4 linked regions of the Homo sapiens genome follow. The protein of the gene in region 3 interacts with the protein of the main gene of each other region in a biochemical or structural test. Each region holds a gene or a part of one and is shown on either strand. Other genes may lie near its edges. The genes, in order: ABL1, BCAR1, CRKL and MAP4K1.

Region 1 (7,028 bases), on a different chromosome or scaffold from region 3:
AAATTTCTTTCAAGAAAAGGAAAGACTCTATTAAGGACTAGAAGGAATCGAGGAACGTGACAGGGGCATCTCATAGAAGTCAATGAGGTGTGGACACATTCAGAACTAAGAACTTTAGGCAGAAGGTGGTGAAGAAAAATCAATCTTCAATTCCGCTATGTCAACAGAGGGTTACAACTTTGGGAAAGGATCAGAACAATGACAGTCAAATCCCCGGGTACCCAGAGATGTTTGAGCCTGTCAAGGCTCCTAGGAAATGGCAACGGCTCGGTTTAGTATTGGCCCCTTCAAGAGTCCAGCTCATAACTCCCAGTCCCCAGCTCTGGGCCCCGAGCTGATGGTCCTCGGCTGATGACCCACAAGGGCTGCTGAAAAGCTCAGAACACGAGGAGAGACACAAATAAGAGCCAAGAGCGGGGAGGCAGAAAGAAATCCTTTGGGGCCTTACAGAAGAATCTTCTAAATTCAGTTGTTTTCTAAAGATGAGCTAATTTAAAAATAAGAACCAAACTTATTCAACCCCAGCCTATTCCTCCTATCGGTCTTAAAATTTCCCCTTAGAAATCCAAAAAGGATTGCATCGAAGTTCTGCTATGTGAGCAGCATTTTTCAGCGGCGAGCCACACGGTCACACGCATAGCTGTGGGAGCTCCCTCTAACGATGTTCACTCATTCCAGTGATACGATCCCACCCAATACACCCCCTCGAGTGCGGCCCTCACAGGAAGGAACCTCCGCAGACGGTCTGCTGGATGACGCTGTGGGCTCAGAAGTCCCCAGGTGCCCAAACGGCTGATGGGAGAGTCTGTGCCAGACGGGGAGGGAGGAGGCAAGACGCCAAGGGAAGTGTGATGTGTTGCCCAATGGTGGACACTGCCTGGTCACATAAGCTCCCTGTGCTCTACCTGGAATGAAACAAACCCACCTGGCACATACTAGCTTTTAGACAGAGGCATCTTAGGCAGATTCTCCCTCTTTGGATGAATCTCAAATTCTGCAAATCACATATCCCATACGCAGGCCTTTCCTTGCCCATTTGAACAGTATTTTAGATCAACCCCTAGCTAATGAGCTGTCACACTAGATCATGCCTGCCTGCATCTGTTCCAAGGTTGCTGATTAAACAGCTCTAGGGAAAAGAAACCATTATCCTGTTCGGTGCAAACCTCAAGTGACTATCTCGGTGCAGCATGACTTGCCTTGGATAAATAGCACACATGGGAAGCAAGCTGTCTGCTCCAGAAAATCACCCCCCATGGGCGGTGCACCCTGGTGTTCTGATTCACTAGAAAGGTACCCTTGTGGTCTGAAGGCTCTTTCAAAGGGCCCAATGTCCTGAAGTACGTCCCTCAGAATGGAAGAACGCAGCTCCACCTCTGGGATAAGAACAATAACCCAAAAAGCAAGCTGACAGGCCCACGTCTAGTCACACAGGGATAACAGGCTCTTTTGTCCGTCACGCACACTGCAGTGTTGGTACTAAAGAATTCTGCAGTGGTGGAAAGCATCAGATATGGGCAATAGGATTTCAGCCAGAAGACTTTGGGATGTGAAGAAAAATAAGAACATTAAAAAGGAAGTATATGTATGTTCATATGGTACAAGTGAATGTGTGAAGACAGCCAAAAAAAAAAAAAGTTAAAAAGGTAAGTGGGGACTAGCCTATCAGATACCACAACATGGTATGAAGCCATAGCAATTACAAGTTTGGTACTGGCATACGGATAGACAGACCAATGGAAGAGAACAGAGAGGTCAACAGGCCTAGATACACATATACACTTGGTATATTTCTAACATGTAGGAAAAAGATGAATTTACTAAATGGCATAAAGATGACCCAAAATATGCCACATGGATATTCAACATAATGAGATGCCATTCTTTACCAGTCAGAGTGACAAAGGTGTTTTTACATGTCTAATAATAAACTGTTGGTGTGGGTTAAGGGGAAACAAGCCCTTTCATGGATTGTTTGTGGGAGAACAAATTTGTACAATTTCTATAGAGGGTGACCTGGTGATGCACATAACCTTCAGTCAGTTCTGGCAACTTATCTGCACACACTTACACCCACATAAAGAAGCACGTGCAACGCATTTTCAAACCAGGCCATGGGCCACTAGTCAGTCTATGAAATAAATTTAGTGGATTACAACCAGAATTTTTAAAAAATGAAATAGAACAGAATGAAATACAAACTATCAGAGTGCGTTACATACAGTAAGGGTAGGTAAGACTTCATGAAACTTTTGTTATATTGTGAGGGCTGGGTGGTGGTGTAAAATGAGTTTTTCTTACAGCAGAACCAGATTTTTGAAAAGGTTTGAAAGCCACCTCATATCAGCATTATTTACAATAACTAAAGATTGGAAACAACCTAAAAGTCAACCAGCAGGGGACTACTGAAATAAGTGACAGTCCATCCACGGTACACAGTCACTGGTAAGAATGAGGCAGCTCTAAACCTGTTGCCATAAAACAATCTCGAAGGTGTATTATCACACGGGAGAAGCATGATGCATTCGCGTGCATGTATCATTTGCGTGCCTTTTTGAATATAAACATCCACATAAACATCTATATACCATCCATCTGTGTCCAGGTAACTCTAGAAGGAACTAGTACCAGTGCTTGCCTCTGGGCAGGAAAAGTGAATTAGGAGACGATTACTTTTTACTGTAATTCATTTTGTTCTTTTGATTTTTTTTAACCATATGCATGCATTACATACTATTTAAAAAATATAGGCTGGGCACAGTGGCTCGTGCCTGTAATCCCAGCATTTTGGGAGGCCGAGGAGGGCAGATTGCTTGAGCTCAATAGTTTGAGACTAGCCTGGGCGACATGGCGAGACCCTGTCTCTACTGGAAATACAAAAACGGCCAGGCGTGGTGGCTCACGCCTGTAATCCCAGCACTTTGGGATGCTGAGGCAGGTGGATCACCTGAGGTCAGGAGTTTGAGACCAGCCTGACCAACATGGTGAAACCCTGTCTCTACTAAAAATACAAAATTAGCTGGGTGTGGTGGTGCATGCCTGTAATCCCAGCTACCTGGAAGGCTGAGGCAGGAGAAATGCTTGAACCCGGGAGGTGGAGGTTGCAGTAAGCCGAGAACGCACCATTGCACTCCAGCTTGGGCAATGAGAGCGAAAATGCCATCTCAAAACAAATAAACAAACAAAAAACAGCTGGGCATGGTGGTGTGCGCCTGTGGTCCCAACTACTCGGAAGGCTAAGGTGGGAGGATCACTTGAGCATGGGAAGCAGAGGTTGCAGTGAGCCAAGATCGCACCACTGTACTCCAGCCTGGGTGACAGGGCAAGACTCCATCTCAAAAACAAACAAACAAACAAACATACACCATCGGGACCACCTATCAACACTGTACCTCAACTACAGCCTGGTGCAGTAGAATAAACTGTGGGATCCAAGCCTATTCCATCAGTGACTCACTAGGTTGACATCGGGCAAGATCTCTTTATGCCTCCCTTTCTTTAATGCAAAGATGCAGGTATTATAGCAATACCTCAGTCAATGTTAACTCCTCCCTTCTCTTTATGGACTCTTAAGGATTATTTATATGAAGACCACAAAATCATATAGGCCACCTCCCTTACAACACCACACTTTGGGTTTGGTAAGCTGTGGGTTTGATCCCGGTTTTCACTGAAAACTGCATGCGTGTATGCACGTATGTCCACACACCTCTCCATGAATGTGTTCATCCGCAGGAAGAAGCCCACGTGCCAGGCGTCTGTGGGGGAGGGGATAGTAAAGTGGTCTTTCGCTCTAAGAAAGGTTATCTATTATTTGAATTTTTCTCGTTGGGGATGATTTCTATCATTATAAAATATTTTTTTTAAAGGAAGAATCTTATTGTAAAAAATGTGTCCAAAACCCAACAGATATTCCTCCTATTTTAAGTAACTTGCTAACAACAAAACTCTAGCAAGACAATAAGAGAATCATACCAGTCCCAGGAACTTGTAATATCACAGAACGGATCCTCAATAAAGGGTCTTCATAAGGCTAATGGAATGACTCCCACCTGAAAGATTCTTTAAACATCTTCTTGGTTGAGCTTTCTTGCAATAATTTATCAATCCGACAGCAGGACCTCTGGTTCCCCTGCCCTGGGCCCATCAGCGCCCCCTGCCAAGGGTCCCCTACCTTGCCATCAGAAGCAGTGTTGATCCTGTAATGGTACACCCTCCCTTCGTATCTCAGCGAGATGGACCTCTGGCCAGGACTGCTCTCACTCTCACGCACCAAGAAGCTGCCATTGATCCCGCTGCTCAGCAGATACTCAGCGGCATTGCGGGACACAGGCCCATGGTACCAGGAGTGTTTCTCCAGACTGTTGACTGGCGTGATGTAGTTGCTTGGGACCCAGCCTTGGCCATTTTTGGTTTGGGCTTCACACCATTCCCCATTGTGATTATAGCCTAAGACCCGGAGCTTTTCACCTGAGAAGAAAGGAACCAAATCAGACATATCAGCTTTGGAAACCAGCTTCGTTCTTTTTCATTGATTCTTGTGTAACTACTAAAAATCTCCAAATTCCTAAATACCAATTTCATTTTAACAAGTCCACATAAAGATATGCATTTATAAGTGTATGAGAATTCACGTTTACATTTGAAGCTTCCTGTTTGTACTGAACAGATAGGTAAGTGTATAGCCTCAGTTTTTATAAATCAATTATGTTTATTCAAGTGCTCTGTTCCTAATATAAGACATTTTAGGGAAATAATGCTTTTTCTTAGGGGAAAAATTGCGTTCAGTATTTTGTCCAGCTGTCCTTTTCAGTATAAAAAATAGGGCAAGTTCTGTTTTTGCCCAGGGCTATTGTACAAGAACTCCTCTAAGGAGAGTCGACTCCCTTAGAAACATGCAGTTGTTGTTTTGGATATCCCTGCAGTCCAGATTTCAAAGCTGCTCCTTTAACGAGCAAAGGGTGGTAGGTCAAACCGCAATTCCCAGATTTCTATCTCCTGCAACCACCACTAGCTGCCCACAACCCTTTTACCTTTAGTTATGCTTAGAGTGTTATCTCCACTGGCCACAAAATCATACAGTGCAACGAAAAGGTTGGGGTCATTTTCACTGGGTCCAGCGAGAAGGTTTTCCTTGGAGTTCCAACGAGCGGCTTCACTCAGACCCTGAGGCTCAAAGTCAGATGCTACTGGCCGCTGAAGGGCTTCTGGAAGAGAAAGGGGGGAACAGAAAAAAGAAAAAGGAAGAGAAAATTGGGAGAAAAAATTAGTTTTATTCTCAGAAGCAAAAATATTTGTGTTTCCAACATTACACATTCCTATTTCATTTCTTAACATCTGTACATACTATTATCATTAAGGTGGTTTTTAAAAAACTCTTCCTTTACTAAATCTTGTGGAAATTAAGTATTTTCACTCCAAGGTGGTAATTATTGTTCCCCAATAGTTTGAGCTTCTAAAATTCATGGATTCAATATGACTTTAGTCAAATTAAAACAGTCTATCCACATATGCATTTGCCTTTGCTTAAAATATGCAATGAAAATTTCTTGCTTTAGCCGGGCATGGTGGCTCACGCCCGTAATCCCAGCACTTTGGGAGGCCAAGGTGGGTGGATCACCTGAGTTCAGGAGTTTGAGACCAACTTGACCAACATGGTGAAACCCTGTCTCCATTAGACATACAAAAATTAGCCGGGCATGGTGACGCACACCTGTAGTCCCAGCTACTCAGGAGGCTGAGGCAGGAGAATCGCTTGAACCCAGGAGGTGGAGGTCTCAGTGAGCAGAGATTGCGCCACTGCACTCCAGCCTGGGTAACGAGAAACTCCGTGTCAAAAAAAAAAGCCGGGGGTGGATCATGAGGTCAGGAGTTCAAGACCAACCTGACCAACACAGTGAAATCCTGTCTTTACTACAAATACAAAAATCAGCCGGGCATGGTGGCAGGTGCCTGTAGTCCCAGCTACTTGGGAGGCTGAGGCAGGAGAATTGCTTGAACCTGGGAGGCGGAGGTTGCAGTGAGCCAAGATCGTGCCACTGTACTCCAGCCTGGGTGACAGAGTGAGACTCCATCTCAAAAAAAAAAAAAAAAAAAAAAAGAAAAGTCAAATCGTACAGAAGGGCTTAAAATGAAAGACAAATACTTTCTATCCCAGTCCTCTCCGCTCCCAGAGGCAGAGCTGTTTTTTTGGTGATCACCCCCACCTCTCTAAGTACCAGCTAGATCACTGGAGTCCTATTCTCCGTAACAGACGCACACCTTCACTGCCTGTTCTTCCAACTAGGACAGCGTCTCTGAGGACTTACTTCACAAGACAAGGCTATTAACACACCCCACCCGTCCTTCCAGCTTTCTTGCCCCCACGACCACCCTCAAATATGTTCTTCTGTAAATTTTTTTTTTTAACCTTGTGGCAATTATTATTACAGAATAGAAAAAACTGTTACTAAACTTCCATGTTTTGTCTGAAACAGATTCTAAAAGTTGGAAATCAATCAACAGCTCTTAAATTAGAAAATGTGTGAATATTATTCATTACAGGGTCAAATAGGTTATTTGTTCCTGAAGTTTCTTCTTGCCTTTTTTTTTTGAACAGGGCTCAAACGCTCCAGAATTTCTTTGTGATAAAGACAACGTGTAGACGAGTTCTTGCAAACCAGCAAATCAAATAACCTCAAGTAGATCTTACAGTTGAAGAACATTGTGGAGTGAAATCCAAAATACTCATTTAAGGAACTACAATTTAAAAATCACTAACTGGGCCAGGCACAGTAGCTCATGCCTGTAACCCTAGAACATTGGGAGGCTGAGGCAGGCAGATTGCCTGAGCCTGAGCTCAGGAGTTCAAAACCAACCTGGGCAACACGGTGAAACCCCGTCACTACTAAAATAGAAAAAACTAGCCGGGCATGGTGGCGGGCGCCTGTAGTTCCAGCTACTAGTCCCAGCTACTCAGGAGGCTGAGGTAGGAGAATCGCTTGAGTCTGGGAGGCGGAGGTTGCAGTGAGCTGAGATCTCGTCTCTGC
Region 2 (7,028 bases), on a different chromosome or scaffold from region 3:
CCCAGGACTTGAGCCCAGACCCTGGCCACCCTGTTGTTGTGGGAGTATTAGGGGAAGTTGCCACTAAGGCTGGCAGGTCCTGGAGTTCCACCCAGGATGGGGACATGGGGGAGGGAAGAGGAGGTGCCCCTCAGAGCCTGAGGCCAGGACCAAGTGGGGTGATCAGGACCCCTCCAGGTGGGTCCCGGGTGCGGATGGCCAGTTGGGCGCATGCTTATTGGGCCTGCATCCGTTGGCCACGGAGGCTCTTTGGGACAAGCAAATAGAATGCCCCAGAAATAAACTTGGCCCAAGTTTGTGATGGTTCTGGGTATGAAAGAAGTCAGTGTTTCCCAAGTGCCTGCTATGTGCGAGGCTCTGTGCTGGGGCGGGTGCATGTGTGCGTTGGGGGCGTGGACAGGAGGGGTGGGAAAGGCCTGTGACATTTCCTCTGGTGGTTTCCACGAACCCAGGCGTCACCCCTCGGTGGAGATAAAGTGGAGCCACCCAGCTCCACCGTGTCTCAGCCTGGGGTCGGCCTCTGCTGCTTCTGGACTCAGTGACCCTGGGCTGTCAGGGAGCTTCTGAGCCTTGGTTTTCCTGTCTAGTAAGATGGAGGTAATCGTGTCTTATGGGGTTGTTTTGAGGGTTAAATGAGCTGGTGGCTGTGTGGGAAAGAGCTCTGCCTCCCGCAGGGAGGAACTGTGCTGTTCTTATTATTGTGAACTTAGTGACAAGTGTGGCACTATTACCCATTTCCTTGTCTGCCCCCAACCCTGGGGTCTTGGGCAGAGAACAGGAGTTCTTGCCATTTTCTCCCAGCTCCCACCTTGTGCTGGCTTGCGGGTGCTGAGGTCATATTTGCTGGGTGAAAGGGTGCAGGCCAGATATGAGCCAGGCCTGGCAGAGAGGGTTTTGGTCAGCAGTGATACCTGCAGTGTTCTCTGCAGTTGGTTTGGGCTGGCCCTGCTCCTGAGAACTCCTGGGTTGTCCCTTCAGGCAACCAGGGAAGGCTCCTTGGAGCAGCAGCATCTCCCCTTACCACTCGCCGACACCAGCTTCCGCCTGACCCAGAGAAGGAGTTTGGGGACAGCCACAGCACGTCCAGGGCTCCCAAGGCAGCTGGCAGAGCCAATGAGGAGACCCCAACACCCATCCGACGGCTGCAGCTCTCCCTGACGTGTGTCACCCGCAGCCCTGGTCCCAGCCGCTGTGCTTCTCAGGGCCTGCCTGCCCAGCCCGGGTGGATATGGTGCCCAGGCGGGCCCCGGGGACACAATGAGGGCCATTCTCAGAGCCAGGCAGAGCGTGTGGGGCAGTCCTGTCAGTCCTATGTGCAACAGCTGGGATATTGTTTAGGGAGTGCTGGCATCAGGCTGGGGCTCTCCTCCTCTGGCCCTGCCCTTTGGGATGAGCAAGCCCCCAAAGGCCTTCCTGGGTTCCTCTGGTGCACGTGCCCTGGAGTTACCCTTCTGAAGGAGGTAGACTTGTCCTCCTGTCCTGGGTGCCTGGGGTGCAGGGGTGTGAATTGGGCTATGTCAAGATATGCTGGGCAGTACTGTGAGGTGGGGGCAGAGGGGAGAAGGTGTCCCAGGAGGAGCCTTCCTGGAGGGGATGATAGTCCAGCATGTTCTGAAGTGGGAGTAGGGTGCGGCAGGAGTAGGGTACCAGAGAATGAGTGAGTCAGGCAGCAGCCTCCACTGCGCCTTGGACACAGGTGGCTGACAGTGTCCACCTGGACTGGCTTTGCACCCCTTCTGAGGTCACAGTTGTGTCCCTTGAAAACTTGGGCAGGAGCACCTGACTGGCCCAGCTTGGGTCATGCCCTAGGCCCAGCAGTGCGGGAGGCCAGGAAAGTAGGCTTGGGGAGGCTGGCCTCTCCTCCAGTTTGAAGCATGGCAGGGGTTCCGGGGGAGGCTGCTGGGGGGCCTGCGAGCATGTCCAGAGCAGGAATGCTTGGGGTGGTGTGTGCTTTGCTCGTCTGGGCTTATCTGGCCGTGGGGAAGCTGGTTGTGCGGATGACGTTCACTGAGCTGTGCACGCATCATCCATGGAGTCTGCGGTGTGAGTCCTTTTGCCGCTCCAGGGTCACAGCCTGCCTCCCTGCTCCAGCCCCCTGGCTGAGGCCCTTCCTCTGCCCCATGCTCTTCTCAGACAGGAATCCTGTGGAATGTCATCTCTTTGGGGAGGCCGTCTCTGACCCTGTATGCAAAGGCCTTCTCCCACATTATTTTTGGCACCCCACTTTCTTCCCCGTGAAAGCAAATTGTTTGGTGTCTTTCTGTCCCACTACAGTATAGGCCCGGTTCAGACAGAGGCCTTGTCCACTAGGCCTGCGCTATCTCTGCGGAGCCCAGCCAAAGCAGGGGCCAGGCGAATCTTTTGTTAAAAGAACAATGCGCGCTGGGCACAGTGGCTCACGCCTGTAATCCCAGCACTTTGGGAGTCCGAAGCTGGAGGATCACTTGAGCCCAAGAGTTTGAGACCACCCTGGGCAACATAAGGAGAACCCATCTCTACACAAAATTAGCTGGGCGTGGTGGTGTATGCCTGTAGTCCTAGCTACTTGGGAGGCTAAGGTGGGAGGTGGCTGAGGTGGGAGGATCACTTGAGCCTGGGAGGTTGTTGCAGTGAGAGCCATGATCGCGCTACTGGGCAATAGAGCAGAACCCAGTCTCAAAAAAAAAAAAAAAAAAAAAAAAAAAAAGAACAATCCTATGAAATGAGGGCTGTCATCCAGCAGAGAGGATCTAGATGCTCAGAGAGGCTAAGGGATTTGCCCAAAGTCCCACAGCCGGGCCCAGGTCTGAGTCTGCCTAGTGAGGAAGAAGGAGTGCATGTCCTTAGGGAACAGAACAGGAGGCAGAGAGGCCCGGAGAGGCGGGGGCCCTGGCCAGCTGGAGTGGTCGGTTGTGTACCAGCAGCGTCCAGAGCTCAGGCTGGGCGGGGGCACACCAGCTGACGCAGGCGGGGAAGCTCCTGGTGCCAGGCGCCTGGTGCCACGTGCCCAGCCTGTGAGATGCTTCCCAGCCTGGCTTCAGCGGCCCCAGACTGGGCTGTGGCCGATCAGTGAGCTCATGCCTGGCAGGGCTGGGCTGTGAGGCCAGAGGCCCCAGCCGCTCACCTGGGCCGGGCTTTCCCTCCCTGCAGGGCCCTTCCCTCCACAGAGCCCCCGGCCTCCCTGCCTGTGCTCCCTCAGCCTCTCTGAGTGCCTGGCCCTGCCTGATGGGGCCTCTGCCAGCCTTTCCTGGGCCACCCTCCTAGGAGGTGAGGGGCCTTCGCGGGGCGGTCCCCTCTGTCTAAACCCCCACCTTCTCTGACTTGGCTGGAGGGGAATTTTCCTGTGACTCACTCTGCTGGCACTTCCTGTGGTCACCAGGGCAGGGGCTGGGGGACCCGGAGGGGCAGCTCTGTGGTGTGTAGGGTCACTGGGGAAGGGTGGCCCGCCCCCGATGGGCTGTGATTCCCAGAGGCAGGCTGCAGACCATATTTGGGAAATGCTTGTCTTGCTGGCCGCCTGGGATGGGGGCCCTGAGCCCGGTGGGCTGCAGGACAGCCCCCGCCCTCCCGCTCCTCTGTGGGGCTCTGGCCCCTAGACCTGCCGCACTGCCTGTCCCGTCCTGCCTCAGAGCCTGGGACATAGTCCACCGTTTTCTTTTTTTTTCTTTTTGTGTAGTTTTTCAGCCCCAAAGCAAGAAACACTCATTCCTGAAAAACAGGAAGAGAAACTATCTCCATTGTCTCAGACATCTCTGGTGTCTTCCTGACCCTCTCTTGTCTTTACGTTTCACAGGACATTTTCTTGAGATGTGCTTTTCACTTGAGTGCCTTTTTCATTTTGTTGTAATCATGGTGTGGACAGTGTTGCAGCCATCCAGGGCCTCTGCCCTTGTGCTCACCTTGGCTCCAATATGACTCCACCTGGGCCTGCCCTCTCCTAGCTGCCCCCTGGCCCCTCCCTTGGGCCTTGCTCCTCCTGGCTCTCCACACTCCAGCCTCTGGCCCTTTTAGGGACTGGAGGCTCCTAGCTGCTCTGGAGAAATGGGCTCCCTGCTGATGATGTCCACCCAGGGCAAGTGAACCATGGGGTCTGAATGTCTGATCCTGGGACCTGGGGCAACTACTGCCTACCCAGGCCGCTGCCTGGTATGCCATCGCCCTCTGATGCCGGCCAGGGAGATGGCGCTCAGAGGGGCACTGTCCAGCCCCTGCTCATATAGGGGAGGAGGGTGGGCCCTAGGGACTTGAAAGAGGCCTCACCCCCACTCCTCTGCCCCAAGGCACAGGCTCCTGCTTCCTGTTTCTGCCCAAGGGGGCGTGGCCCTTTCTTCCTTGTTTCACTCCTTGCAGATGGAGTCCAGAAAGTGGGACTTGGGCCCAAGTGGGGATGGTCACACAGCTACTGGCTGGCCAGAACCCAGGTCCCATTTCCGAGTCAGAGTCTCGACCAGGCTGCACATCTAAGACGCCAGGAGACTCTGAGGAGGGACCTTGCAGGGCAGCCCAGAGCTGAGGCCAGGCTGGTGGGGTGGCTGGAGCCCAGTGCCGGTCACTGTCCAGCCAGCCTGGCACTGTTCTCACACCCGGCTTCCCTGTGTGTGAAGTCTGGGGCCCCTGTGGAACCCATGCAGCCCTCTGCTGCCCTAGGAGGGGCCGCAGCCCTGGCCTTGTCTCACCCCGTGCCTCCCTCACACCTGCCTTTTGCTGCAACCGCCCACACCCTCCAGCCAGGGATCCTCTGTCTCTCTGGGCCCATCCTGCGCCTGGCACCTCGATGGGGCAGCAGCGGCAGGGGCGAGGATGCATGAGTGTGTGGTGGGAAACTGCGAGGCCTCCCTGCCTGGGCTCTAGTGTCCCAGCGAGGCTCCGCCCCTGCCCTCGCCACGGCACTCATGCCTCTGATCCCACAGCCTCCTCCAAGTCCCTCTCGGACTGCTTGGCTCCTGGGCCACATGGAGCACGTACCCGGCTCTGCAAGGGTTTGCTGAGGGCGACGGGGCCAGGACAGGGAGGGTGTGCCTCCTGTTTCTTTCCCAGCCTTGGGGAAGGTGTTTGAAGTTTCTAAATTAATTACTGACTTTTTGGATTTGGGGTAGATAGACTTTGTTAAGGAAGCTCTGTCTTATTGTTGTTCATTTTTTTATCCTAAGAAGCTGTTCTTTTTGTCAGATTATTTTCGTGCACCTCGAGAGAGAACCATTTGCTATTTGTTTTAACTTGGCAGCTTTGTCGTGATTACTGCCGCTCTCCTTGTGTTGGTCCAGGTAGCAGAGTGGCCTTGGGTGGGGCTTTTAGGGATATCTTGAGGGTCATCCCTGGAGTTTTGGTGGTGACAGTGGTCAAGAGGATTTTGAGGTGCTATACAGGTGCAGTTGAAAGAAAGGCCAGGATCAGCTGGGCCTTTCTGCTGGGGAACAGGTGGGGACAGTGGAGGCAAAGGCACAATGATCTCGCCAAACTCCACTGAGTTCTTTTCCTAGTATCAAAGCTGGGCACCTCCCCAGAGCAGGGCAGGAGCTGGGGAGCCCCTGACGCCCCATGCACATCCTTCTGTTCTCACACCTGTGTCCTCTCTCCCCAGAACGTGCTGGCCAAAGCGCTCTATGACAATGTGGCCGAGTCCCCGGATGAGCTCTCCTTCCGCAAGGGTGACATCATGACGGTGCTGGAGCAGGACACGCAGGGCCTGGACGGCTGGTGGCTCTGCTCGCTGCATGGGCGCCAGGGCATCGTGCCTGGGAACCGCCTCAAGATCTTGGTGGGCATGTATGATAAGAAGCCAGCAGGGCCTGGCCCCGGCCCTCCCGCCACCCCGGCCCAGCCTCAGCCTGGCCTCCATGCCCCAGCGCCTCCGGCCTCCCAGTACACGCCCATGCTCCCCAACACCTACCAGCCCCAGCCAGACAGCGTCTACCTGGTGCCCACTCCCAGCAAGGCTCAGCAAGGCCTCTACCAAGTCCCGGGTCCCAGCCCTCAGTTCCAGTCTCCCCCAGCCAAGCAGACATCCACCTTCTCGAAGCAGACACCCCATCACCCGTTTCCCAGCCCGGCCACAGACCTGTACCAGGTGCCCCCAGGGCCTGGAGGCCCTGCCCAGGATATTTACCAGGTGCCACCTTCTGCCGGGATGGGGCATGACATCTACCAGGTCCCCCCGTCCATGGACACACGCAGCTGGGAGGGCACGAAGCCCCCGGCAAAGGTAAGGCTGTCCTGGCACAGTTGTGCAGCCACACAGGTATAGCCCAGGCCCTGGTTTGTGGGCACAGAAGGGTCCAGCCACCCTCAATCACCGGCATTCCAGGAGTGGCTGTGTGTTTGGTCTGGGGTCAAAGTGGGAAGTGAGTGTTTGGGGGGTGTTCATTTGTCCGGGGAAGATGGATGTGAATGGACCCAGAGGGGAGATGCTCCGCTGGCCTCAGCCAAGCCGACCCGAGTGGTGGTGTCACCAACCACAGGGAGCAGCCTGTTGAGGCGTTCCAGTGGGCAGGCGGGGCTTGGCACATGGGGTCGGCAGTTGCTGGGCCCCCGCAAGGGAGAGGCCAGCCACTTCATGCTCAGGCTCCCCTGTGCCATCTGGGTTTACGTGTCAGCCTCTAGATGGGGTTCCGGCACATCTTCTGGCCGCCCCTGCCTCCACAGGCCAACCCCTCTCCACTTATGGAACATGCTAGGGGCCAGCGGGTGCGTATGGTGATCTGGATGTGACTCCTGGGAGGACGCTGCCCCTGAGATTGCTAGAGGAGGACTGCCCTGAGAGCCTCCTGGGCTCTTGCTGATGGGATGCTGGGCCTGGGGACAAGACCTCTGGCCTCCAGACCCTGAGCCCGCTTCCCAAGTCCACAGGGCCCCTGCCTCCCAAGCTCACCTGCCTGTAGGAAGGAGTCAGCACTAGACACTCAGCCCAGGGCTGAGGTGGAGACCTCATTGGTGCCAGCTGGGCAGCGAGTCAGCTGGGAGTTACCCCCACCCCCGCCCATGGGTGGCCTGGTACCCAGGAGGCATGGCCGGAGGTCGTTGGCGGGTGGGGGACTCCATGGACATGGGCC
Region 3 (5,869 bases):
TGCTAATTCCAGCTCTTCCCTTCGTGCATCCAAAGGGTATGATCATTAGAGGGGGCGTGGGGTTGGGGGATGGGTTCTATTCAGGAATCTCTACTCAAGTAACAATCATTTAATTACTGCAAGAACCTTTCAAAGTTGGAAGGAAACTGAGACTTGGAGAACTTAAGCAGTTTGCTACAGTCATGTAGTTTCTAAAAGTGGCAGAACCAGGACATTTGTTTGGTGTCCTGCATGCTCCAAAGTTCATGGCACGGACCATTGGACTGTGCCATAAAAACCTTATGCCTGTTTTTATTTTGAGATGTAGTCTTGCTGCGTTGCGCCGGCTGGTCTCAAACTCCTGGGCTCAAGCAGTCCTCCCACCTCAGTCTGCCAAGGACCTGGAACTAGAGGCATGTACCACGATGCCTGGTTCTATATGTGTTTAAGCAGACAAAAGCTTATTTCTTATTGTCTTAGATCTTAGGTGGGTCTTATATTCAAGTAGCGTTTTTATGGACCTAAGTACACAATACAGAACCTTAGATTAGTGCTCTGCTGAACAGAGTAACACCCTGTCTACAATGACTACCACCTGAAGGTCTTTTTTTAAAATACACCTTTTTGTGTAATTTGACTTTAACCATTCTCAGAATCATGTGTTCATTTCTATCCTGTTGGGGTTAGTGGCCAAAATAGAAGGTTGGTGTGGGGTGGGGAGCTGCTTTGTGCTCAAAAGCTGTTTCTGTGTGTGTGTGTGTTTTGATTTTTGTTTTTTTGAGACAGGGTCTCACTCGGTTGCCCAGTCTGGGGTGCCGTGGCACTATCACGGCTCACTGCAGCCTCAGCCTCATGGGCTCAAGCCATCCTCTCACTTCAGCCTCCTGAGTAGTTGGGACTGCAGTCATGTACCACCACACCCGGCTAATTTTTCTATTTTTTAGAAGAGATGAGGTTTCACCATGTTGCCCAGGCTGGTCTCGAACTCCTGACCTCAAGTAATCCCAGGAGTTCAAGGTTACAATGAGCTGTAATCGGGCCACTGCATTCCAGCCTGGGCGACAGACCCCGTCTATAAAAAATTAAAAAATAATGTGCATGGTGGTGCACGCCTGTAGTCACAGCTATTCAAGAGGTGGAGGTGGAAGGATCACTTGAGCCCAGGCGTTAGAGGTTACATTGAGCAGGGATCTCACCACTACACTCCAGCATGGCTAACAGAGTGAGACCCTGTGTCTAAATAATAATGTATGGGCCCTTTGGATAAGGTAGTGTTTGTGATTTAATGTAAACTGTCTTTTTCTTGTTGCAGAGAAATGCTAACTTTGTCTTCTTCATCCATACAGGTTGGTGACATCGTGAAAGTCACAAGGATGAATATAAATGGCCAGTGGGAAGGCGAAGTGAACGGGCGCAAAGGGCTTTTCCCCTTTACGCACGTCAAAATCTTTGACCCTCAAAACCCAGATGAAAACGAGTGATTGCTGTTGCCCTGTTTCCTGCTGCTTTGTTGTTCTGCCTGTCCTAGTCTCCTTTGAAGTGGGAAAGCATTTTCTCTCATAGGCAAGTCACACTGCATTGCCGAAGTCCAGCTTTCTGCAGACTGGCAGTCGCACACACATTTGGAATGCACACAGCGGCTGCCTCCTGATGTTTGTATCATAGTCGTATTGTCAAAGAGTAGCCGATTTTAGAGTTCTTTTGGATCATAAACTGGAAATACTGATGGAAGCACACAAGTGGAGAGAAGTTGACATGGAAAGGGTCTTCCTTCTCATTGCTGCCCGTTTGTACATGGGACTGATTCTGTTGTGTTCACCAGAGAAAGCTTGAGGCCATGGCGAGATACTGCATGTTTGCTGTTCCACAAAGCAGTGGCTTAGCTGCCATCTTGCTTTTCTTTGGACAACAGGAAGTGAACCTTAAGGAAGAGAGAATTCTGTTCTAAAACTCCAAAATCTGGCTTTTTTTTTTCTTTTGTTTTGGTTTGGTTTTGGAAAACTAATTAATTAGACTTGTGTGGGGGTTTTTTTTTGTTTTGTTTTGTTTGTTTTGTTTTGTTTTTTTGAGACGGTGTCTCGCTGCATCACCCAGGCTGGAGTGCAGTGGCGCAATCTCGCCTTCCTGCAGTCTCCGCCTCCTGAGTTCAAGCGATTCTCCTGCCTCAGCCTCCCAAGTAGCTGGGACTGCAGGCGCGCACACCACGCCCAGCTAATTTTTGTATTTTTAGTAGAGACGGGGTTTCATCATGTTGACCAGGCTGGTCTCAAACTCCTGACTTCAGGTGATCCACCCGCCTTCAGCCTCCCAACGTGCTGGGATTACAGCCGTGAGCCGCCGCGCCTGGCCTAGACTTGTGTGTTCTAAACAGGTTAAGTAGCAGGTTGGGTTTTTATGATAGTGCAAGGAATGACTCATGCCTCTGAGCTTCTAAACTGAAGCTGCTGTAACTAAAGGAATCTGAAAAGAACAACCCTGAAGCAGAGGCCTTTATTGTCTTGGTTGCCAGTAGTACCTTGTTTTGCCATGTAGCAGACAACACACAAAATAATGCAGTTGTGGTGTGCCATGCTATGTGCACAGCCCCTTGGATTACTTTGTTTTAAAAAGCATCAGAGTTGGGGGTACTTTAGGGAAACCTTTGCTTACCTTGTTTTGCCAGTGATAAGAGCAGTGGGTTGGAGGGCACTTGGCCAGTTTTCTGTTCAGCTTTTCAGTGAATGTACCCCTTTAAGGTTCAGACTTAAACTTCCTTAAAAAGTGGCGTTGTTCATAGAATCGTTGGACTCATTAATGAATCGTTCAACTCCACTCACTGAAGCCCAGACCTCCGTGCCCAGGCCCAATCTCGTCAGGCTGCCAGAGAAAGTTGGTGCTGCTCATACTGGTCTCACAGTCTAAGTAAGTGTCTGTGATGCTCCCAAGCAAAGGAAATGCAAGCTCTGGAAATTCGTTAATGTATTTGATGTCTTAGTGTTTTAGTGACTAGGGAGACCATTAACTAGTTTATCATTAACCACTTATCAGTGTATTGATGTTAAAGCATTTCCCTGTTAGCTAAAAGAGGCCTGTTCATACAAGCCAACTGGTATATACGTGTGGTTCATCCATCATCTGCTGCACATAGCAGACTAGAATTCTGGGAACCCTGTGCAATTCAGTCTGCTCTCCCTTGTGGACCCTGGTAAAGAAAAGCCTCAGCTCATAGTGAACACAGCAGACCTAGAAATGTAGCAGCAGCCTACTGAGTAGCTTTCATTTACTGATCATCTGCTGTGACTGTGGCCCTGTCTGGAGGTTCCTAGGTTTTGAGATTTAGAGCAATGCATTCTGGAGACAGAACCAGCAGAACAGCCATTTTTCAATTTTTCTTTAAATCAGTATTCCATCAGGCAGATAACTGCTGTATTCATGAATCTTGAGAGTGTTCCTGAGACAGAATTAATGGTCATTTGGGAAAACTATCGCCATGGCTTCCCATCTGTGGTTTTCCTCTAAAAGCCTTGGAGATTAGCCCTTCCTTGCCAGTGAGAACGGTGACCGCCTCCTGCTCTGCACGGTCTGCGGCAGTTGCCGCTTCTGGTTAGGTGTGTCAGGTTGGCTTATTTTGGGTTCAGGCCTGGCGTAGCACCCACAAGTGGCAGACATATCACAAGAGTCCCCAGACTCTGCCTAGAAACAGTGTTTGCCCTTTGGCCAGTGACGTGGTTCATCCCGGCCCATGTTGAGCCATGAGTGGAGTTTCCAACAGAGGGAGGAATGTGTGCCTTGTTCAAGGAGGGCACGACCCTTAGGCCTTTTTCAACCAGATTTAGCTGAAGGGCTTGACACCTTTGAATTACAGCAGTTGACTCAGAGTGCAAGAAGTCTGGCCATTTTGGAAAGCAAGGTTTCCTTTCAGCCCTGTCTACTGACCAATACCCCGACTCACCTTGTGTGGCGCACTTCAGAATCAGATATACCTAGAGTATACCTGTGGTTTGGTTTTATAATTAATCAGCTCGTTACTTCAGCCCATGAAAATGGCATCCAGGGCTGCCAGGAGATTCAGAGCTCAAAACAAGGCGAGCTTGAGTTCTGCACTCCAGATATGTGCCAAAACTAGTAAAACTTAACGGACTTACAACCTTGTCAGTTTTTTTAATGAGGCAGGGATACTCTGTTTTTCACACTAAACATATGAATGCAGCACTGCTGCCTCAGCTCAGCTTCGTGCCTGGGTTCCCCACTGGTCTGGGAAGACTGTTGTGCTCCATAGAGCAGTGCACATCTGACCCAGAGGGTGGGTGTTCATAACTGCTACTTGCTCTGCTCTACCATGTTTAAAGAAATATTTGGATGTTAAATTAACTCACTATGGTTTTTCACCTGGGAAGGAAACAAATTACGTACTAGAGGGCATTGACTGGTTAAAAACTTGTGTATCCCGGGAAGGACCTGCGGTACAGGAGTCAGCCATGTCTGTGCTGTGTGGAACCACCTGATGACATGGTTAACGAGGAAGACGATGTGTTGACCGGCTGCCGTTTGAGGACTTTGGTCACCCAGACTAGACACCTTCTGTGCTCATGTTTGGAAAGCTGAAAGGGAAGGACAGCTGTGCCCTCCTGGGAGCTCATGTGTCCCTGGCGCTGTGCTAGCTTTCCTTTACAGCTGTTTACAGACAAGGCAGGCCTGAGGCAGATGGCCACTGCTCTTGTGATGTTTGCTCAGAGGAATATGAACATTTTATTTTTGAAAAGGGATGATGTGGTTTTTTGCCAGGTGTTTATAATTAATCCTTTAATATTATGGTTATTAACCTCTTAAACATGAATGAATTCTTGATTGTTTTAACACAGTACCTAAGACTAATGCTTTCTGTGGACACCACTGAGCTCTGCCTCAACTCCACCCTCTGCGACCGGAGGACTATGCCCCTAGTAACTGCTGTCGGTGTGGACGCTGTGCTGGTTCTGTTTTCTAAAGGAGCAGAAGGACAGGTCTCTGAGACAGGATCGTTGTCCCTACAGGAGGAACAGTGGCCTTGCTTCTTAGACGGTCTTCACTGTGTGTTTTAAAACAACAACAACAACAACAACAACAACATAAAACTCTTTTGACCTGTAACTTAAAGATCATAAACTTCAGGCAATAATATTTTCTGTGTAAGCTTTTAAAATTATTTTTGGGGATCATAGCTTGTTTTATTTTGTGCTATAAAATTAACAGTATTAAATGACTTATATTCTTAGAATACATCGAGTGTCTTTTCTTAACAGATTAGTGCCTTTTTATTTTTGTATTCCGTTTTACGTTACTGGTCCCAGCATCAAAACCCTTGTTTCCATGGCCTGTTTGTATATTGTCTCAATAAAACTTGCATCAGCCGGTGGTGGCGGCAGCTTCGGTGTTTCAGTGTCTCCTCAGTCCGCCCCCACTAGCCTCCTGGCAGTTCATCAGTGGTGAAATCTCTGATGCTTCTCAGAGACCCTTAGTGCTGCTGCTGACCAAGAGCTAGAATGAAGTCTTGGCATCCGCCCATTCCAACACTCGGGCACCCAGAGGAGAGCACCTGGGGTCTCCCTCCAAAAGAGAAATCTGCCTCCCAGAGTGTCTGTCTTGTAGGTATTGTATGGGAGCCTAGTGCTTGGCCTTCTGAGCATGAGGCAATAGTTCCCACAGGTTGCACCACCACAGAGAACTTGGATCTTTTTCCTTCTAGGCACCCATATCTGAGGCTTCTAGTAAATATTTCTTCAGCATGAGCTAACCAGGGTTGAATGGTATCAAGCAGAAGTCATGGGAAGTGAGCAGCCTCATTGCAGGTCAGGGCATGATATCTGTGCGGCTTTCTTGAATCCTTTTCTGTTCTTGGCTGTAGGTGGTTCTCCTGATGAACTTTGGGAGA
Region 4 (6,841 bases), on a different chromosome or scaffold from region 3:
ATGGTGTTTATCTCACAGAATACTGTGTCAGACTTTGCCCTTACACTTTAGTATTTTTATTTATTTATTTTTGCTCACTCAGTTCCTTCCCTCTTTTTGAAATGGAGTCTCGCTCTGTTCCCCAGACTGGAGTGTTAGTGGCACAATCTTGGCTCATTGCAACCTCTGCCACCCAGGTTCAAGCGATTCTCGTGCCTCACCCTCACAAGTAGCTGGGACTACAGGCATGCGCCACCACAGCTGGCTAATTTTTGTATTTTCAGTAGAAATACAAAAATTATCTCAGCTGGAGATCTCGGCTCCAGTGGCACGCCCAGTGGCGCAATCTCAGCTCAATGCAATTTCTGCCTCCCGGGTTCAAGTGATTCTTCTGCCTCAGATCCTGAGTAGCTGGGACTATAGGCGCGCACCACCATGCCTAGCTAATTTTTGTATTTTTAGTAGAGACGAGGTTTTGCCATGTTGGCCAGGCTGGTCTCGAACTCCTGACCTCAGGTGATCCACCCACTTCGGCCTCCCAAAGTGCTGGGATTACAGGCGTGAGCCACCGTGCCCAGCTCCTTGCTGTCTTTAAGGGAGCCATGTTCGTAGTGACAGTGGAGGTATCTTCCAGGCACTGAGACACACACTTTTTTTCCCTAGCTGCTACAGGAGCTGAGAGACCCTACCCTCACTTTCCGTCTGCTTGGCTCCCCCAGGTATGTTGTGGGGTGGGGTGCAGAAGGACCTGGGAGGGGGCTTCTGATGTGAAGAGAGCATTCTGAGGTGTCCCCAGCAAGGTATCTCTAGCCTGGACAGTGTCTCACCTGGTCACCCTGCTTCCATCCCTGCTCCCTAGAGTCTGTTCTCTGCACTGCAGCCACGGGGGCGTTCTCTCTTTTTGTTTTGTTTCTCACTGTACTCAAAGGCTGGAGTGCAATGGCACGACCACGGCTCACTGCAGCCTTGACCTCCCAGGCTCAAGTGATCCACCCACCTCAGCTTCCTGAGTATCTGGAACTACCGGCATGTGCCACCATGCCCAGCAATTCTTTTATTTATTTATTTATTTATTTATTTATTGAGATGGAGTTTTGCTTTTGTTGCCCAGGCTGGAGTGCAATGGTGTGATCTTGGTTCACTGCAACCTCTGCCTCCCAGGTTCAAGCGATTCTCTTGCCTCAGCCTCCCAAGTAGCTGGGATTACAGGCATGTGCCACCACACCCGGCTAATACTATATTTTTTAGTAGAGATGGCATTTCACCATGTTGGCCAGGCTGGTCTCGAACTCCTGACCTCGGTGATCCACCTGCCTCGGCCTCCCAAAGTGCTGGGATTATAGGCATGAGCCACTGCACCTGGCCAATCCTTTTATTTTTTAATTTTAATTCTTTTATTTATAAAATTTTTTTAAAATTTATTTTTGACACAGAGTCTCGCTGTGTTGCCCAGGCTGGAGTGCAGTGGCACAATCTCAGCTCACTGCAACCTCTGCCTCCCAGGTTCAAGTGATTCTCATGCTTCAGCCTCCCAAGTAGCTGGGTTTACAGGTGTGTACCACCACATTTGGCTATTTTTTGTATTTTTAGTAGAGACGGGGTTTCGCCTTGTTAGCCAGGCTGGTCTCAAACTACTGACCTCAGGTGATCCAGCTGCCTTGGCCTCCCAAAGTTCTGGGATTACAGGAGTGAGCCACTGCACCTGGCCTTAATTTTATTTCATTTTTGAGACAAGGTCTCATTCTGTTGCGCAGGCTGAAGTGCAGTGTTACACACACAGCTCACTGCAGTCTTGACCTTCTGAGCTCAACTGATCCTCCCACCTCAGCCTCCCAAGTAGCTAGGTCCACAGGCATACACCACCACAACTGGCTAATTTTTAAAATTTTTTTGTAGAGACGGGGTCTTGCCATGTTGCCCTGGCTGTCCTTGAACTGCTGGCCTCAAGCAATCTTCCTACCTTGGCCTCCCAAAATGTTAGGATTACTGGCATGAGCCACCACACCTGGCTGCATTTTTTTTTTTTTTTTGAGACGGATTCTTGCTCTGTTGCCCAGCCTGGAATGCGGTGGCGTGATTTCAGCTCACCACAACCTCCACCCACTGGGTTCACGCGATTCTCCTGCCTCAGCCTCCCGAGTAACTGGGATTACAGGCATGTGCCACTGTGCCCGGCTAATTTTTGTATTTTTAGTAGAGACAGGCTTTCGCCATGTTGTCCAGGCTGCTCTTGAACCCCTGATCTCAGGTGATCTGCCCGCCTCGGCCTCCCAAAGTGCTGGGACTACAGGCATGAGCCACCGTGCCCAGCCCTGGCTGCATTTTTATTTTAGATTTTTATCTTATTAAAAATTTTTAACTATTAAAAATAACTATTTTAACTATTTTGACATAATTTAAAACTCACACTCCCAGAGAAGTTGCAAAAATCCCTTTTATCCAGATTAACCAGATCTTTTTTTTTTTTTTTTTTTGAGATGGAGTCTTGCTGTGTGGCCCAGGCTGGAGTGCAGTGGATCTCCACTCACTGCAACCTCTGCCTCCCGGGTTCAGGCAAGTCTCCTGTCTCAACCTCCTGAGTAGCTGGGACTACAGTTGCACACCACCACGCCCAGCTAATTTTTTTGTTTTTTTAGTAGATGTGGGCTTTCATCATGGTGGTTAGGCTGGTCTCGAACTCTTGACCTCAGGTGATCCACCCACCTCTGCCTCCCAAAGTGCTGGGATTACAGGCGTGAGCCACTGTACCTGGCCAGATGTTAATCTTTTTAACCGCATTTGCCTTATTATTCTTTTTTTTTTCTTTTCTTGAGACAGAGTTTCGCTCTTGTTGCCCAGGCTGGAGTGCAATGGCATAATCTCAGCTCACCACAACCTCCCACTCCTGGGTTCAAGCACTCCTCCTGCCTCAGCCTCCCGAGTAGCTGGGATTACAGGCATGTGCCACCATGCCCGGCCTCTTCTCTTTCTTATGCGCACACACCACACATACAAGTATATGTGTGTGTGTGTGTGTGTGTGTGTGTGTGTGTGTGATTTTTTAATGAATATTTGGGAATGAATTGCAGACGTGATGCCCATTTACCCCTAAAATACTTCAGTGTATGTTTCCTGAATCAAAGCAAGGACATAATGTTACAAACCACAGCACAGCTGTCAAAATCAAGAAAACAACACTGAAACATCACAACCTTCTAATTCATACCCCTACTCAATTTCACCAGTTGGCCAGGTGTGGTGGCTCACGCCTGTCATCCCAGCACTTTGGGAGGCTGAAGTGGGCAGATTACCTGAGGTCAGGAGTTGGAGATGGGCCTGGCCAACATGGAGAAACCCCACCTCTAGTAAAAATACAAAAATTAGCTGGGTGTGGTGGCACGTGCCTGTAATCCCAGCTGGGAGGCTGAGGCAGGAGAATCACTTGAATCGGAGAGGTGGAGGTTGCAGTGAGCCGAGATTACGCCACTGCACTCCAGCCTGGGTGACAGAGCGAGACTCTGTCTCAGAAAACAACAACAACAACAACAAAAAATTTCACCCGTTGTCCTAGTGACGCCCGTGATTATATATATATATATATATATATATATATATATATATATATATTTTTTTTTTTTTTTTTTTTTTCTGGTCCAAGATCATAGGTGGCACTTAGGAGCCATGTTTCTTTATAATTAAGCCGGAAAAAATAATTAAAACTTCTTTTGTCTTAAAGGAGCTTTGACCTTTTTAAAAATTAAAGGAAATTTGTTTTCTAAAATGTCCCTTAACTGTGTTTGAGGTTTCCACGTTCTGAATTTTGGGCAGGAATACTGCAGAAAGATGTCTTTCTCAGTGCATCATTTCAGGAAGTACACAATGCTAGTTTGTCCCATTACTGGTGATATTAACTTCGGTCATTTGGTTAAGGTAGAATCAGCCAGTTCTCTCCACTGTGAAGTTGCTTTTTTCTCCCTTTTTCTTTTTTTTTAAAGATAGATTCTCTCTCTGTCACCCTGGCTGGAGTGCAGTGACGCGATCATGGCTCACTGCAGCCTCGACCTCCTGGGTTCAATCAGTCCTCCCACCTCAACCTCCCGGGTAGCTGGGATGACAGGCGCGTACCACTACACCTGGCTTATTTTCGTATTTTTTGTACAGACAGGGTTTCGCCATGTTACTTAGCCTGGTCTGGAACTCCTGGACTCAAGAGATTCACCTGTGTAGGCTTCCCAAAGTGCTGGGCTTATAGGCAGGGGTCACCGCACCCAGCCTCTGTTTTTCTTTGTAATAAGAAGTATCCCACCGGTCGGGCGCGGTGGCTCACGCCTGTAATCCCAGCACTTTGGGAGGCCGAGGCAGGTGGATCACCTGAGGTCGGGAGTTTGAGACCAGCCTGACCAATGTGGAGAAACCCTGTCTCTACTAAAAATACAAAATTAGCCGGGCATGGTGTTGCATGCCTGTAATCCCAGCTACTCGGGAGGCTGAGGCAGGAGAAGCGCTTGAACCCGGGAGGCGGAGGTTGCAGTGAGCCGAGATCGCGCCATTGCACTCCAGCCTGGGCAACAAGAGTGAACTCTGTCTCAAAAAAAAAAAAAGAAGTATCTTTTGGGGAGATTCACTGAGACGAGGTAAATAGTCTGTAAATACGTTGTTTCTCATCAGATTTTCACCCACTAGTTTTATTGTTTTTTGTTTGTCTTTTGTTGTTGTTTTGAGTCAGAGTCTCACTCTGTCCCCCAGGCTGGAGTGCAGTGGCACGATCTCGCCTCACTGCAACCTCCTCCTCCCAGGTTCAAGCAATTCTCCTGCCTCAGCCTCCCGAGTAGCTGGGATTACAGGTTTGAGCCAACGCACCTGGCCTGCCCACTAGTTTTAGAATCAATTGATTTTTCCCTGAATCTATTATTGTTAGGTGGCTACTAACAATAAATGGTGATTTTCTGATTCTATGTTTCCTTCTGCGTGTGTTAGTTGGCATTCTACTCTAAAGAAGAGCTGTGTCTTCTCCATTCTTCTTTCTTTATACCAGCATGGTCTCATGGATTTTTATTCTGTGGGTTATAGTCTATTACTGTCATTATTTATTTATTTATTTATGAGATGGAGTCTCGCTCTGTCACCCAGGCTGGAGTGCAGTGGTGTGATCTCAGCTCACTGCAACCTCTGCCTCCCAGGTTCAATCGATCCTCCTGCCTCAGCCTCCCGAATAGCTGGGATTACAGGCGTGCACCACCATGCCTGGATAAATTTTTTTTTTTTTTTTTGAGACAGAGGCTCGCTCTGTCGCCCAGGCTGGAGTGCACTGGCGCTATCTCGGCTCACTGCAAGCTCTGGCTCCCAGGTTCACGCCATTCTCCTGCCTCAGCCTCCCGAGTAGCTGGGACTATAGTGCCTGCCACCACACCTGGCTAATTTTTTTTTGTATTTTTAGTAGAGATGGGGTTTCACCGTGTTAGCCAGGATGGACCTGGATAATTTTTGTAGTTTTAGTAGAGATGGGATTCACCATATTGGCCAGGCTGGTCTTGAACTCCTGACCTCAAGTGATCTGCCCCCCTTGGCCTCCCAAAGTGCTGGGATTACAAGCATGAGCCACCATGCCCGGCCTTGTCATTATTTATTTTGAGGCACAAATGGTCTTAAATTTAGCCAGTGGGAACCACTTTAAGTAGCCCCTGTGTCCTTTTGACATGCCAGAAGGGTCACTTTAAATCCAAATCTGATCGTGTCACTGTCTCCCTGCTTAAAATCCTCCCATGGCCTCAAGATAAAGACTCAATCCTGGCCACAGCCCACAAGGCCATGACATCTCCAGCCAAGTCCCAGCCTTTCTCCCACCTCAAATCCTTTGCACAGGCTGTTCTCCCCAGCCAGAACACTCTTCCTTGCCCTTTCACCAAGTTCCCTCCTAACCCCCCTTCAGGCTGCACCATCCATTCTCTGGGGAGTCTGGGCTGACCTCCTGGGTTAGGTTTCCCTGCCAGACATGCCATGCTTTTTTGCACTCATGTAATTCACTGATTCATGTTGATCTCCTTCTCTAGAATGCAAGCTTCCTAAGGGCAGGGACCGTGTCTGCCCATTCACTGCTATAGTTCAGCATGGGGCTGGCACAGTCTCTATTAACTACTTTGTGAATTAATGAATCAATGAACATATGAATGAATAAATGAACTGACTTATCTCTTCCTTCCACAGGCCTGTAGTGGTGGAGACACGCCCAGTGGATGATCCTACTGCTCCCAGCAACCTCTACATCCAGGAATGAGTCCCTAGGGGGGTGTCAGGAACTAGTCCTTGCACCCCCTCCCCCATAGACACACTAGTGGTCATGGCATGTCCTCATCTCCCAATAAACATGACTTTAGCCTCTGCTGTCATCTTGTTTTTCTTGGGGGAAACAATTCCTGGATGTCCACTCCTCCAAAATTTCAGCAGGCCAACACAGTGATGCTGGGGGGCGTAGCACAGATTTATTTTCCAGTACTAGGTCACCTCTCCCCCAGCTGCCTTAGGGGGAGGGGCTTGGGGACTAAGGGGCTTGCTGTGAGAATAAGGCACTTGAGGTGGGGGTGGAGGGCCAGCTGGGGGTGTGTCAGCTAAGCTGGTCCTCATACTGCTTACGGAAACAATCACCAGCTGGGAAGAAATCCCAACATCTCTCTTGGTACATCTTCCAGACATAAGACTCCTAGGATTGGGGATAGAAAGAGTTCATTGGTCACATCTTCAAACCCTTGAGACATATATATATATATATTTTTAGACAGGGTGTTGCTCTGTTGCCCAGGCTGGAGTGCAGTGGCGACAATCACAGCTCACTACAGCCTCCTGGCTCAAGCGATTCTCCACCTCAGTCTCCAGAGTAGCTGGGACT

Evidence for each region.
Region 1: the proteins of CRKL (region 3) and ABL1 form a complex in vitro, tested with the Homo sapiens proteins (4 studies listed by BioGRID and IntAct, with this or other methods).
Region 2: the proteins of CRKL (region 3) and BCAR1 interact in a test that uses a peptide from one of them, tested with the Homo sapiens proteins (2 studies listed by BioGRID, with this or other methods).
Region 4: the proteins of CRKL (region 3) and MAP4K1 form a complex in vitro, tested with the Homo sapiens proteins (2 studies listed by BioGRID).

What each region holds. Positions count from the first base shown.
Region 1 is NC_000009.12:130,852,243-130,859,270, reverse strand, and holds part of ABL1 (tyrosine-protein kinase ABL1), read right to left. Parts: intron 5,208-7,028; coding exon 5,034-5,207; intron 4,471-5,033; coding exon 4,175-4,470; intron 1-4,174. UniProt on the Homo sapiens protein: Non-receptor tyrosine-protein kinase that plays a role in many key processes linked to cell growth and survival such as cytoskeleton remodeling in response to extracellular stimuli, cell motility and adhesion, receptor endocytosis, autophagy, DNA damage response and apoptosis.
Region 2 is NC_000016.10:75,241,623-75,248,650, reverse strand, and holds part of BCAR1 (breast cancer anti-estrogen resistance protein 1), read left to right. Parts: intron 1-499; exon of another isoform or gene 500-591; coding exon of another isoform or gene 592-597; intron 598-5,560; coding exon 5,561-6,181; intron 6,182-7,028. UniProt on the Homo sapiens protein: Docking protein which plays a central coordinating role for tyrosine kinase-based signaling related to cell adhesion. Implicated in induction of cell migration and cell branching. Involved in the BCAR3-mediated inhibition of TGFB signaling.
Region 3 is NC_000022.11:20,948,386-20,954,254, forward strand, and holds the end of CRKL (crk-like protein), read left to right. Parts: intron 1-1,325; coding exon 1,326-1,460; 3' UTR 1,461-5,362; downstream 5,363-5,869. UniProt on the Homo sapiens protein: May mediate the transduction of intracellular signals.
Region 4 is NC_000019.10:38,587,139-38,593,979, reverse strand, and holds the end of MAP4K1 (mitogen-activated protein kinase kinase kinase kinase 1), read left to right. Parts: intron 1-642; coding exon 643-698; intron 699-4,704; coding exon of another isoform or gene 4,705-4,802; intron 4,803-6,162; coding exon 6,163-6,232; 3' UTR 6,233-6,339; downstream 6,340-6,841. Other genes in the region: RYR1 (ryanodine receptor 1), read right to left, coding at 6,560-6,655. UniProt on the Homo sapiens protein: Serine/threonine-protein kinase, which plays a role in the response to environmental stress. Appears to act upstream of the JUN N-terminal pathway.